Regions from separate parts of the Homo sapiens genome. Here region 1 is linked to region 2. Evidence: fine-mapped expression QTL. Tissue or cell type: sun-exposed skin. Region 2 holds a variant in brackets; the other region holds the start of a gene. All regions are shown on one strand. Distances are between the middles of the regions. Region 1 holds the start of LINC02613 (long intergenic non-protein coding RNA 2613). Region 2 has its middle 6.4 kb from the start of LINC01883.

The links. PIP is the estimated chance that this variant, and not a neighbour inherited with it, causes the effect. A credible set is the group of variants that fine-mapping cannot tell apart.
Region 1: LINC02613 starts here. The variant in region 2 is the best candidate, but not a certain one, in a credible set for the expression of LINC02613 in sun-exposed skin (GTEx, PIP 0.89).

What each region holds. Positions count from the first base shown.
Region 1 is chr2:38,513,167-38,517,565 of GRCh38, reverse strand. LINC02613 (long intergenic non-protein coding RNA 2613) reads left to right here and starts at 1,826. Exons shown (of 5, transcript NR_110259.1): 1 at 1,826-2,119.
Region 2 is chr2:38,435,495-38,439,893 of GRCh38, reverse strand. No RefSeq gene overlaps it. Among named protein-coding and RNA genes, the nearest start is that of LINC01883, 6.4 kb to the right of the region's middle. RefSeq lists enhancers at 636-685, 706-955, 3,353-3,647 and a silencer at 3,353-3,647. The variant C/T (reference allele first, on the strand shown) is at 1,866.

The sequences.
Region 1 (4,399 bases), 78 kb before region 2:
GTTCTGCAGAGTGGCTCGACTTATTAGTGTGTTCTCTTCAATGCCTGTCAGAGAAGAGGTGATCACTGTGTCTTATGAAATCAGATCTGTAACCGGAGAAAAGATGAAATTGCTTAACTAGCCCGACTCATGTCAGTTTTTATTTGAGAAGAGAAAAAACATCCCTTTGAATAAGAGAAATATAGCAGTCCTTATCTGTCTAGCAACTGTACTCTCTGTATAAAAAAAGGTAGCCCCATGATTCTACAATTATTTTTTAAAAATTATAAATAAATACAGTATACATGCATTGAAGGAAGGTGTGCAAACTTATTTCCTAATGGTCTGTGTGATCACAGTAGTTTGGAGACCACTGCTCTAAGTGATGAAACTTCAGGGGCCCCTGCTTTGTCCTTTGCGTATTTCTTTTTAAAGAAACTTAAAAAAATAGACATTATTATTATTTGAGACGGAGTCTCGCTCTGTCACCCAGACTGGAGTGCAGTGGCATGATCTCGGCTCACTGCAAGCCCCGCCTCCTGGGTTCACGCCATTCTCCTGCCTCAGCCTCCCAAGTAGCTGGGACTACAGGCACCTGCCACCATGCCTAAAAACTTATGTATTTTTAATAGAGATGGGGTTTCACCGCATTAGCCAGGATGGTCTCAATCTCCTGACCTCGAGATCCGCCCTCCTCGGCCTCCCAAAGTGCTGGGATTACAGACGTGAGCCACTGCGCCTGGCTGACATTATTTTTATAAGTAGTTTTAGTCCACAGAAAAATTAACCAGAAGATACAGAAATATCTCACATCCTCCCTGCCCCCCACATACATAGCCACCCTCTTATCAACGTCCCTTCCACCAGAGTGGTACATTTGTCACAATTGATAACCCACATTGACACATCATTATCACCCAAAGTCCATAGTTTACATTAGGGTTTATTCTTGGTGTTGTACCTTCTGTTAGTTTGGACAAATTTATAATGGCATGTATCTTCCATTAAACCATCATACAGAGTATTTTCACTGGCCTAAGAATCTTCTGTGCTCTGCCTATTCATACCTCCCTCCACCCTAACCCCTAGCAACTACTGATCTTTCTACCATTTCCATCGTTTTGCCTTTTCCATGTTGTCATATAGTTGGAATCATACAGTATGTAGCCTTTTCAAATTGGCTTCTTTCACTTAGTGATATGCATTTAAGTTTCCTCCATGTATTTTCATGGCTTGATAGCTCATTTCTTTTCAGTGCTGAGTAATATTCCATTGACTAAAAGTACCACAGTTTCATTTATCCGTTCTCCTACTGAAGGAAATCTTGGTTGCTTCTAAGTTTTGGCAATTTTGAATAAAGCTGCTATAAACACCCATGTGCAGGTTTTTGTGTGGACATACATTTTTGACTTCTTTGGGTTAAAACCAAAGAGTATGATTACTACATCGTATGGTAACAGCATGTTTAGTTTTGTAAGAAATTGCCAATCTATCCTTAAAGTGGCCGTACTGCTTTGCATTCCTATTAGCAATGAATGAGAGTTCCTTTTGCTCCACATCCTTGCCAGCATGTGATGTTGTCAGTTGTCAGGTTCATGACTACACCACATGTTATGTTGAGTCCGAAGGGAGTGGCTGGATGAGCAGAAAGAACACTCGGGGGGCTGTAGGCAGTTGAAAGATGACTTTATTCAGCAGCAGCTCTTATCAACAGCTTTCTCTCACACTGTCCGCCCTGTCTCGGCTGCTTAGTCTGGCGGCTCCCACACACAGCTGCGTGGCCGGCTCTCCCTTGCCTTCAGGGTGAGCAGCTTAACTCTTTCTCTCTCTGGGAGTGAGTGAGCTGAGCTGTGTCCTGGCTCAGACGGACAGCTCTGACTCGCTCGCTCTTTCTCTGGGCGCCTGCGCGCCTACCATGACAAGCCATTTCAGGCGAGCCGAGCCCCAGAGCCATGTGTCTGGTGCGCAGTGTTAACAGGGCAGTTATACCTTTTACAGACAACTGTGGCTCCAAGTCAAGTATGAACTTACACAAACAGTTTATATAACAAGTGGAGGTGTGCGCCTGCGTGCCAAACTTGCTGACTCGTGCAGGCCTGGATACCCGCCTCAGACTATTCCTTGACCGAAGCACTTCCAGGTACCTTACATCAGTGTTCCGGATTTTGGCTGTTCTAAAGGGTGTGTAGGTGGTATCTCATTGTTGATTTAATTTGCATTTTCCTGATGACATACGTCGTGGGGCATCTTTCGTATGCTTATTTGCCACCTGTATGTCTTTTGCGGTGAACTCTCTCTTAATGTCTTGGCCCATTTTTAATTGGTTGTTTGTTTCCTTACTGTTGAGTTTTAAGAGTTTTATTTATGTTTTGGATAATAGCCCCATATCAAATACATCTTTGGCAAATATTTTCTCCCAGTGTGTGGCTTTTCTTTATATTATCATAAGTATTTTTTACAGAACAGAAGTTTCTAATTTTAATGAAGTCTAGCTTATCAGTGTTTTCTTTCATAGATCATGCCTTTGGTGTCATGTCAAAAAAGTCATAACCTGGCTGGGTGCAGTGACTCACACTTGTAATCCCAGCACTTTGGAAGGCCAAGGCGGGAGGATGACTTGAGCCCAGGAGTTCAAGACAGCCTGGCAATATAGAGAGACTGTATCTCTACAGATAATTTCAGAAAAATTAGCCAGGCATAGTGGCATGTGCCTGTAGTTCCAGCTACACAGGAAGCTAAGGTGGGAGGATTACTTGAGCCTGGGAGGTCAAGGCTGCAGTGAGCTGTGGTTGCGCCACTGCACTCCAGCCCGGGTGACAGAGACCTTGTCTCAAAAAAATAATAATAATAAAAAACCAAACCAAAACAAAAAGTCACTACCAAAGCCAAGGTTATCTAGATTTTCTCCTATGTTATTTTCTAAGAGTCTTACCATTTTGTGTTTTACATTTAGGTCTGTGATCTATTTAGAGTTAATTTTTTTGTGAAGGGTATGAGATCTATGTCTTCATTCCTTTTTTTTGAATATAAATGTCTCGTCCCAGTACCATTTTTTGAAAAGATTTTCTTTTCCCCATTGTATTGCCTTTGTTTTTTTGGTCAAACATCAATTGACTATATTTATATGGGTCTGTTTCTGAGATCTCTATTCTGTTTCATTGATCTCTTTGTTTATCCTTTTTTTTTTTTCTTTTTTTTTGAGATGGAGTCTCGCTGTGTCACCCAGGCTGGAGTGCAGTGGTGCAATCTCGGCTCCCTGCAACCTCCACATCCTGGGTTCAAGCAGTTCTCCTGCCTCAGCCTCCTGAGTAGCTGGGATTACAGGTGTGTACCACCAGGCCAAGCTAATTTTTGTATTTTTAGTAGAGACAGGGTTTCACCATGTTGGCCAGGCTGGTCTCGAACTCCTGACCTCAAGTGATCCACCCGTCTTGGCCTCCCAAAGTGCTGGGATTACAGGCGTGAGCCACCGCGCCCAGCTCTTCGTTTATTGTTTTGCCAATGCCACACTGTCTTGGTTGCTGCAACTTTATAGTAACTCCTGCAGTCAGATAGTGTCGGTCCTCTAACTTTGTTCTCCTCCTTCAATATTGTGTATCCTACCACTATTTTCAAGGAAGTTTAAAAAAAAATCCATCTTTTTTTTTTCCAACTCTTGCTATCACCCTCACACTGTGTAGTAACTCAGCCTCTGTCTCTTACTCACTGGGTGATCTTAGCTGTTCTCTGCTTTTGTGAAGGAAAGAATCTACGTCAGGATATTTATAATTATAACTTATGTAAAAAATCCAAACACACTAGAAAAAGTCTAAAGCTCAAGAAACAAATATTAGCCATTACCCTCAGTTTCTGACTTGGGGATCACCCAAGCGAGTAAAAGACAGAGGCTGAGTGTGAAGGAAAGAATCTATGTCAGGATATTTATAATTATAACTTATATAAAAAATCCAAACACACTCAGAAAAAGTTTAAATCTCAAGAAACAAATATTAGCCCTGGGTCCTGGTTTGTTATTACCTTTAGGGGTGATGTGGAGCTAGTGGCCAGGCTTTCCTTTCTTCCTTTCTAAAAGGCAGGGATTAACCTGGACTATCTCAAACATTGCTCACAGCTGGGAGATCATGACATTTCAACCCTGACCCAGCAACTGAGATTGGCTTCAGTTTTACGTTGGTTTATACAGAGGTCTGTTTCTACTCTTCTTCAGATTGTAATCTAGGTTTGGGACACCAAATATTCCATTTAAAACATCTAGGGCTGGGTGCTGTGGCTCACACCTGTAATCCCCACACTTTGGGAGGCCGAGGTGGGTGGATCGCCTGAGGTCAGGAGTTTGAGACCAGCTTAAACTTATATAATTATAACTTATATAACTGTATCCTGACTTAGAGCTGATCCTGACCACAGTGGAGCCTCTAGG
Region 2 (4,399 bases):
TCTAGTGAATACTATAAAAAGTCATGAGAGATACAAGACATATACAAAAGACCCAGGCCTCCACTTGAGATGCAATACTCAGACACCAGAAAAGCACAAAATATGTCTAGTGTTTCCTTGTAACAGACAATGACTTGATGGTATTCAGGAACAAGGACTAACTTTGGCTTAGAGGTTGGGATAATTGTCATCTTTTCAATAGCAGCCATGACAATGCCATGTAGGAAAAAAACATCAAAGATACTTTTTAATTTTATAGGCATAATTGTATTTATTTTCTATAGCCAAGTATTAAAAAAAATTGTTCATAGGCAAGACAAACAAGGCTAAGCATTTTGACCAAGATCACAAGAAAGAGGGACTTTGCAGGTAGGCTTCTGGATTTAAAATCCAGTATTTTACATGCAGTGTTGAATTCTGTTTCCCATGAAGCAGCTGAAAGTGCCAGTTGGAGTGTTGTGGGCAAGGTCATGGGTTTTGTACCCAGTGACTCACTTAGCTACAAGAGGAAAAGGACTGTACATTTCATCTTCATTCTTACCAGGACACATGGCTTCCTAAATATACTCATTGGTGTTTCAGACAATCACACTTTATTGAACATTACCTTTATGCCAGGCTCTGTGCTTCATGCTGGAAATGTAGTCTTGTTCTCAAGAAGAGCAGAATTTAATAACAAAGACATACAAGCAAATACAGTGTAATAAGGACTCTGATAGAGGGAAACGTGGGCATGAATGGAGCCAGAGGAAGCTTGTCTAACTCGAAATGGGGGTTGGGGTCAGCAAAAGTTTCTGGGAATCCCCTGATCACAAACATCATGAAAACTGGTTAGGCTAGTTGGAGCTAGCCAGGGAAGGGGCTTTCCAGGAAGAGGGGACAGTGTTTGCAGTCATGCATTGTGGTAAAAGAGCATGACATATCTGAGAAATAGCAAGTGATCTAGCATGGTGAGATTTTTTTAAGGAGACACTGCAAGGTAGGAGAGGCAGGCAGGGTCCAAATTGAAAGTAGCCTTGGGGCCCACTCTAGGGAAGTTTAACTTTATCTTCACTGTTTTAACAAGACATGAAGGGTCTTAGATTGGGGTGGGAGTGTATGTTTCATGAAGATCCATTGCAAAGTCATATGGAAGAGGAACAGGTGGGAAACATCTGTTCCTGGAGGCAGAGCCTTGGATTCCCTGGGGAATGGCAGGAGGGGGAAGATGGCAGAAAAAGGCAGAGGACATCACTGAAGACCAAGTCTATCCAGTGTCATTAAAGGTCTTTTGTGTCCCGGGTGCCATGCTAAGTGCTCTTCATGCCTTGCCCCAAATTATCCTCATACCAACACCAGGAAGTGACTATCAGTTATCTTCATTTATAGAGAGTAAAGCCGAGGCTGTGTGTCATACACCTATAACTGTTGGAGCAGGGATTTGAACTGATCCCTAAATTAACTCCAGAAGCTGTGAAGTTAACCTCTCTGTTATATTGCCTTTTGTTGAGGATTGGCCTCATCCAGAATACAGAACAAAGCCTTTTTCTAAGACACAGGGACTTTTCAGATGGGGCAGCTCAATTTTTTTTTTTTTTTAGTTACATAGTAATAGAGAAGGGATCCTTTGTATTGCAAGCCAATACTTGGTAAGGATTCCAAAAGTGGTTTGTGGAAAACAGACTGTAGCCTTCATCTTTGGACATAGCTTGAACACAACAGGGGAATTCTTGTTTTGCTGGATGGGGCTGGGATTGGTGGAACTGAGAACCAAGATGAGGTGATAAATCTCACCTATTCTGGCCCTTTGCAGCAGTTCCCTTCCTTTGGGACTGTCATGTCGTGCTGCACCTTCGCCCCCATCAAGGGACTGCAGTAGAAGCAGT[C/T]GTATTACAAGGTGGACCAATGGCTCCTTCTGAGGGTTTAGGATGGCTGACTAGAGGAGAGCGGGGGTGGAGGTCCTCTCTCCGGTGGATGAACCTGCAAGATGAAATAGCCAGAAGCTAGGCTGGGCATGGTGGCTTACGCCTGTAATCTCAGAACTTTGGGAAACCGAGGTGAGTGGATCATGAGGTCAGGAGATCGAGACCAGCCTGGCCAACATGGTGAAACCCTGTCTTTACTAAAAATACAAAAATTAGCTGGGCGTGGTGGCAGGCACCTGTAGTCCCAGCTACTCAGGAGGCTGAGGGAGGAGAATCGCTTTAAGGTGGGAGGTGGAGGTTGCAGTGAGCCAAGATTGTGCCACTGCACTCTAGCCTGGGCAACAGAGCGAGACTCCGTCTCAAAAAAAAAAAAAAAAAAAAAAAGAAAAGAAAAGAAAAAAAAGAAAAAAAAAGAAATAGCCAGGAGTTGTTGGTGGCCAGGTTTTCAACTGTGAAGAGAAAGCTGGACTTTAGAGATGAGTAGGAACTTGACCTCCTGTAGGAAGAAGCAGAGACTGGCAGAGATGTAGCTCCTGGTTTTAGCTGTTTGTGAATTTCAGCTGCATCCAAGCCTTTTTAAGAACTGGATTATTTGATTCTTCCTTGAATCTTAGAAATGTTCCTAGTATTGTCAGTGATGACTCAGCCTGTAATCTCAGCACTTTGGGAGGCTGAGGCAGGCGGATCACCTGAGGTCAGAGTTCGAGACCAGCCTGACCAAAATGGTATAACCCTGTCTCTACTAAAAAAAATACAAAAATTAGCTGGGTGTGGTGGTGGGCACCTGTAATCCCAGCTACTCGGAAGTCTGAAGGGGGAGAATCGCTTGAACCTGGGAGGTGGAGGTTGCAGTGAGCTGAGATCATGCCACTGCACTCCAGCCCGGGTGACAGAGCTAGACTCCATCTCAAAAAAATAAAAGAAATGTTTCTAGATCCATCTAACGTAATCTTTTTATTTGCTCTCAGCAAAAGAAAGTGTTTGTTCCAGGTCTGTTTGCAGCTGTTTTTCAAAAGGTGTGTCTATCTTAGGTGACTCATGAGTCTATGTAGCCTGATTGGCAAAATGAATTGGCCACTTCTGGTTCTCTGTGTTGTACTTGGATATCTCTGAAAGAGGTGGGATTCTAGGGAGGGCCTGGTAATCACTTTTTCTAGTCATAACAACTGACTTATCTTTCATTTTTGTTCAACCCTCGTCCATGAGGGAAACCAGAACTTGTCCAGTAGGAGAGTTGGAGGGGCCTCACTGATGCTGATAGGCTGGGGTATGGTTACAAGGGAGCTTCAGGGCTGGTACCAGCCCACTGCTGACAGTCAAATGCAAGGACACAGAATTAGATCATACTCAACCAGGGCCTGGGAACAAGACACAAAGCCCAAAGGGTTTCAAGCCAGCTAGACACCAAAATGGAGCAAGGAGTCAGAGCCTAGTGGAAACAAAGGTAGATGATCTAAGAAAGCGGCTGTCAACGGGATGGGCATGCCCAAGGCTCACTTGTGTTGGCTTCTGACCTGTGTGTGTAGTGGGTCTATTTAGAGTAAACACTAGCCCCAGGTGGACAATTCCAGCAACCACTCAAGGATTAGGTCACCTAATGTGCAATGAACCATAGGCTTGGGGGTGGACCTGGTGTATGTACACAGAGGAGGCAAACAGGAGGGCAGCAGATTAAGCAAGCACATTCTTACACAGATTCCCAGCCCAAGGAAGCCCTCTTCTCATTTTTTTGGCCATGGAAACCATATAGCCATGAAATGGAACATGACTCACCAGTGTACCACTCCATGTGAATTTATGTTAAAGCAACAGATAGGGAATTTCATACAACATCTTTATTTATCCAAACATTTGGCTAATATGGGTGACGATAACAAGCATTATCTGGGTACTCTGTGGAGGCTTGCCATGACACAAATAGACCCAAAGCATGATTTTGTTGCCCCAAAACATGATTTTTGTTCTAATAGCTGTCTGGCACTCACTAATCAAGTCAGTTGAATAAACAGTGCTTCTTTCTGACGCTGTATCAGGCATGGTGTCTGTTGTCTGTCTTTTCTCACAAAGACATTTTTTTCCTAAGTAAGTATAGTATAAAGATGATTATTGAATCAACAAGCCCAGAGGCTTCACACTGCTTTCTTGCAGGGGACCAAGTGGAGAAGGAGTCAGCAGGTTGACCCAAACAGTGATCAGAATCATGCTGGTGGTTGGGAGAAATGGGTTTGACCATCAAAGGAAGGTCAAAGTGAACTAGTGGGAGATGGAGGAGGAACTTGCCCAGCAAGCTCTCACCTCCCATCTGGGAAGCTGAATCCTGCAGCCCAAAGCTGAGGTCTCTTTGTTTTACCCTTGGCTGTAGAGCTAGCTATTTGATAAGTTGAATCAGAGAGGTTAGACCTTATTTGGAAGGCAAGGTTTTTGCATTGCCTAGATATTGAAAGATATCCCTTTGTTTTTATGGGAATGAACAATGGATAATGCAATAGAGGCCA